Regions from separate parts of the Homo sapiens genome. Here region 1 is linked to region 2. Evidence: fine-mapped expression QTL. A gene starts in region 2. The other region holds a variant in brackets. All regions are shown on one strand. Distances are between the middles of the regions.

Region 1 (2,908 bases), 58 kb before region 2:
TATGACATGATGGAATGTTCTCCAAGCTTAGGTAGTCCTGGAGGCTTCTTTATTCTTTGTACTACAGAACAAAAAAGGAATACATGCTCTCCTTCAAGATAAAGGTGCTGGTTGTAATAATAATAATAATAATACAATAATAATATTTATTGAGCATATGTATGTGCCAATTGCTTTGTAAGCACGTTAGAGCACTATTATCTTATTCATCCACACAGTAACCATTTAACAGATGAGGAAATTAGTCCTGGGGAACTGGGTAACTTGCCTCAAGTCCCTCTACTAAGTGACAAGGTGGGGATTAGAACCTGACTTTTTCAATAGCTGTTTTACTGAAGAAAGAGAAGGGCTGGGCAGACTGTGAGTGGCTTGGCAGTGCGGCATTCCGTGTGCGGCCCATGTGCTGATTTCCTAGCACCCCAAACATAGCTCTGATCATTGTTGGGAATTCACCTGATGAGTCCTGGAACTTCAGTTCCCCAAGGAACAGGCCCGGACACCGGCAACACAAAGCGACCGTTATTATTCTGAACTTTGTCCTTTAGAAACATGGATACCTGGAAAAAAATACATTTATTGTCATTTTTCTTGGTATATTTTCATAGACATCAATATTCTGAGGGTGGAAAGTGCGTAATGGTTTGGGAACATGACCTATGAGTTTATAACAATAAGAAGGGAGAGGCTGGGCGCAGTGGATCATGCCTGTAATCCCAGCACTTTGAGAGGCTGAGGCAGGCGGATCATGAGGTCAGGAGATAGAGACTATCCTGGCTAACACGGTGAAACCCTGTCTCTACTAAAAATACAAAAAATTAGCCGGGCGTGGTGGTGGGCACCTGCAGTCTCAGCTACTCAGGAGGCTGAGGCAGGAGAATTGCTTGAACCTGGAAGGCAGAGGTTGCAGTGAGCCAAGATCGTGCCATTGCACTCCAGCCTGGGCGACAGAGTAAGACTTCATCTCAAAAAAATAAAAAAATAAAAAAAAGAAGGGAGAAAAAATTACACTTGCAGAGTTAACTGTATTTTAACAAACAGAACTATTTTTTTTTTTGAGATAGGGACTCACTTTGTCACCCAGGCTGGAGTGCAGTGGCACGATCTTGCCTCACTGCCACCTCAGCCCCGCCAGCTCACGCGATTCTCCCGTCATAGCCCCCAAGTAGCTGGGACCACAGGTGTGAGCCACTGTGCC[C/T]AGCTAATTTTTATATTTTTTTGTAGAGATGGGTTTTCGCCATGTTGGCCAGGCTCAAAATCCTAAGCCCAAGTGATCTGCCTGCCTCGGCCTCCCAAAGTGCTGGGATTACAGGCGTGAGCCACCGTGCTCGGCTACAAACAGAACTACTTTTGAGCAGCGCAGCAAACCTTCCAGGTGAGTCCTATTACCCCCATTTTAAAGACGAGAAAGCTAAAGTAGAGAGTGAAGTGACTTGCCCAAAGAGAGCTAAGAGGCAGGGCCAGGATTCAAAACCAAAGGTGACTCCAAATTCCACCCGTATGCCTTGGTTCCCTGCCTACTTTCCATGCAGCTGCAGGCCTTGAGCTGTAAGAACCTCATATGGCCACTTTCTACATGAGGCAGCTCAGAGGTTAAGATGCCTCCTCAAGGTCAGCCAGCTGGTAAGGGGCAGAGCTGAGGATTCAAACTCCTGTGATTCTGACTTTGGAGCCCGAACCTTATCCACATGCTGGACTAGAAAGAAGGATGGGGCTGGGGCAGGGGGATCCAGCTGACATTTAAGTTTGAGGATCTTTTAGGTGACTGAAAACACATTACACTTATTCCTTCTCCTGGGTTCGTGTACTCTGTATAGAGGTTTCGGTCACTCACAGATTAAATCTCATAAAGATAGTAGCAGTTAATCAGTTTTACTGGGTCTTGGCTTCCTTATCTGTAAAATAAGAGATGAGCTTGAAGATCTTTTCAACTCTAATATTCTATAAGGTTATATTAGTAATATAATCAAGAATAAGTATCTTAGGCTGGGTGTGGTGGCTTACGCCTGTAATCCTAGCACTTTAGGAGGCTGAGGCGGGTGGATCACCTGAGGTCAGGAGTTCGAGACCAGCCTGGCCAACATGGTGAAACCCTGTGTTTAATAAAAATAAAAAAATTACCAGGGTGTGGTGGCTCATGCCTGTAATCCCAGCTACTCACAAGGACAAGGCACGAGAATCGCTTGAACCCCAGAGGTGGAGGTTGCAGTGAGCCGAGATCATGCCACTGCACTCCAGCCTGGGCAACAGAGCAAGACTCTGTCTCAAAAAAAAAAAAAAAAATGGAAAGAATAAGCATTTGTTGTGTGCAAGGCAGTGAAAATGCAAAGCGATAAGAATGTGTGAGCTGGCAGCTTGGCATACTGATGTTAGACTCTGAAGGCTTAAATACTGGACGGGCCACTTCTGGGTTTTTGGGAAATTACACAACCTTTCTGTGCATCAGTTTTCCCTTTGGTAACCTGGGGGTAATAATAGTAATAATAATAGATAACTCGGTGGGTTACTGTGACAACTAAATCAGACAGTGTATAAAAAGTAAAGCCGGCTGGGTACAGTGGCTCACGCCAGTAATCCCAGCACTTTGGGAGGCTGAGGCGGGAGGATCATGAGGTCAGGAGTTCAAGACCAGCCTGGCCAACATGGTGAAACCCTGTCTCTACTAAAAATACAAAAAATTAGCTGGGTGTGGTGGCATGTGCCTGTAATCTGGCTACTCGGGAGGCTGAGGCAGGAGAATCGCTTGAACCCAGGAGGTGGAGGTTGCATTGAGCTGAGACCTTGTCACTGTATTCCAGCCTGGGCAACAGAGCAAGACTCTATCTGGAAAAAAAAAAAAAAAAGCAAAGGCTGACACATAGACTATGTGCTCAATAAATGGTAGCCAATACTCTTATTATTACAAGTCTAT
Region 2 (2,908 bases):
CAACACTGGTTGGGGAAGATTTAGCCTCCAAGGCCCAGATTTTGGGACACTGGTTTTCATCTCCATGTGCTTTTGATCCTATCCCAGCCCTGTTGCCCTAGCCAGGGTCAGCTTCAGGCCCAGCCTATGCCCCGTGCAGTACCACCCTATCCGCCTCCACTGGCTCCTGTCCAGAGTAGACAACCTAACCCCAAGAGGCCCCGGCATCCTTCCCCTGGGTGCTGGGTGTTGGCCTGCTTGGCCTCAGTCTCTGGTCCTCCACTGCAGCCCTGGACGTCCCCCAGCCTGGTTAAGTGGGCCTAGGACCTGTTGGAGCATGGTCTCACTCTCTGGGGGGCCGATATGCAGAGAGGTTTGGAGCCCAGCTCAGATTCAGGTCACCTGACTTGATCTCCAGCTCCGCCACTTACCAGCTTTGTGATCTTGGACAAGTTACTTCACCTTTCCGAGCCGAGCCTCAGTTTCCCCATCTGTGGGAAAGAAATAACATTAGCACTCACTCCTCAGCGTTGTTGTGAGGATGAAATGAGATTATTTTGGTAAAGGCATTTAGCCCTGTGCCTTGCATGGAGTTGGCACTCAGCAACCATAGGTTATTTTCACGAGCCATAAATAGCAGGTCAGCAGCTCACAGAATCCAGCACAGTTCAGTTTTCCCCTCACCCCTGCCTCCCTCACAGCCTGTGTGGTCACACCTCCCAGGACTGCCACCTTGCTTTTGTCTGTGCCACACTGCGCAGTTCCAAAGCCCCCTTTCTGGATCCTCTCCTCCTAACTCCTGGGCCCCCTGGCCCTCCTGTCACTGCGGCCATCTCTGCTGGGCTCTGCAGGTGCTCACTCCTGTGGCCCAGCACAGCTCGATGTCTCCTGGGCTGGCTGCCTTCACATTCCCTCTTTCTGTTTCTCCCTCATCACGCTCAGCCCTCTCCCCTCACACTCTCTTCCCCACTTCACACCCCTCGCTCCCTTGCTGTTTCTACTCTCACCTCGAGATTCTTTCTGTGGGAAGGGTGGGGAGGGAGGAGGGGGCTGGGAATAAACAGAGGGGAGAGGCATTTCCAGATATGCTGCAGATAAAGAAAAAGAGAGAGCAACAGGAAGAGTGACAGAGTGAGGCGGTGACTGAAATCCACACAGACTGAAACGACAGAGAGACTCGCCAAGAGGACGATTGAGGCCAGAGAGATATCGAGAGACAGAGAAAAAGGGCCCAATGTACGCCGACCCAGAGAGTGGGCGGGGGGGGGGCACTCGGAGGCCTGGAGCCCGGGAAGCGTCTGTTACCGAGAGTTTAAGATTCAAGAGATAGCAGGAAATATGCGAGACAGAGAAACTCAGAGAGATAGCAAGCCAGAGAGAAGCTGAGGAGGAAAGATGGAAACAGAGAGTGAAATAGAGACCCAGACGGGGAGGGGTTGCGCGGCTGGAACTCACAGACACACACGTCCTGAGAGACAGAGGCATGGGGAGGGGAGAATGATTATGCCTGTCCCCAGCCCAGCTCAGTGTCCCCAAGGAGATACTTGGCTGTGAGTGACTTCCCTGGTGCAATACCCCCAAAAGTAGGGGCATCCTGTGAAAAGAGACTCAGTGTCCAGGGCTGGGGTTCCAAAGGACGAATCCCGGGCCCCAGGCCTAGGACCCCGGACATGAACACTTGGCAGAGCTGTGGGGAGTGGCCCCAGGATTCCAGCTCTCCATCAAGCCCAAGGCTCAGCCCCTCTCTAGGGATCCCCTACTCACGTTGGCACCTCTGGCCCAGCCCCTGCTTGGCCTCCTTGGTCTCTCTTCTCGTCAAGAGAAGTTCCTGAAACCAGCTGCAGTCCAGCTTCTCTCCCCGAGCTCTGTCGTTAATGGCTCAGCCTCTGACAGGCCCGGGGGCTGGGGATTGCAACACCTTCCGAGCCTCCCTCCTGCCCTCCCTTGCGCCTTCGAGGGCACAGGCAGCCCCTTCCTCCCAGGAAGGAGCCTGTGAGGGAAGCTGGTGAGGCCCGGGCAGCCTTCCTGCCTTGGGGGTCTTAAAGGGCTGGGGAATGTGGCAACGATGTCCCCCTCCCCTGCCTCCGGATTTCCTGAGCTCAAAGCTTTGAGGCTGGGCAGGGCCCAGGCTCCCACCTGGCTGGGTGCCATCCTTATGCCCCCTGCCCTGGGGGAGCATCACTTGGAGGCAGGCCCTGGCTGGAAGGCTCACCCGGCCCTAAGCCTCTTTTCAGCTCTAGCCTTGGGGACCACATCTTCACAGTACTCAGAAGGGTGTGTTCCAGGTTCCAGGGAATTGTGTAACCCAATACTCACTGCTCCCCTCTTCATTACGTATTCTGTGCATTGCCCATAGACCAGGCAGATGGAGAAACAGGAATTCTGGGGGCAAGACAGGAGGACGTCTTGGTGAGGCACGGGGTCTTTATATGTTCACTAAAAATTAGGAATGTTTACCCACAATGGTTCTGCAACACTGAATATTTTGTAATTGAGTGAAATAGACTACATTTTATGTCTTTTATTGTCTGTATTCATGATTCTTCTAAAACTACAAATAATTTTCTTTGCATTTTCTGAGAAAGGTTCAAACTGCTCATAGTTTATTGGATTCATAACCCAAAAAAGGTTAGGTGCCAACAGACCAGCAGACTGTCCTTAACATATAATCCTTTTGAGGCATCTGGGTCTGGTGTGATGCTGCAGACCAGGGCTGTAGTTCTAGTTCCAAGTCAAATGACCTGACTGCCTGCTGCAACCCTCCCAAGATATCCCACAGGCTCTGCTCGCTCAGTGAGTCCCATGGACTCTCTTCTTTCCAAATATAACCAGAATCCTGGGTATTCACTGTAAAGTTCAACTTGGCTCTACGTTTGAATATTTTTATGATAATATTTGGAAAATATAAATATAACTGAAACCAATACTA

What was found.
Region 1: its variant is fine-mapped to the expression of CSF3R in whole blood (TOPMed, PIP 0.98).

Annotation. Positions count from the first base shown.
Region 1 is chr1:36,422,910-36,425,817 of GRCh38, forward strand. It overlaps OSCP1 (organic solute carrier partner 1), which reads right to left. Exons shown (of 10, transcript NM_145047.5): 5 at 454-557. Among named protein-coding and RNA genes, the nearest start is that of SNORA63C, 5.8 kb to the left of the region's middle. The variant C/T (reference allele first, on the strand shown) is at 1,196.
Region 2 is chr1:36,481,068-36,483,975 of GRCh38, forward strand. CSF3R (colony stimulating factor 3 receptor) reads right to left here and starts at 1,846. Exons shown (of 17, transcript NM_000760.4): 1 at 1,744-1,846; 2 at 411-470. RefSeq lists an enhancer at 1-534.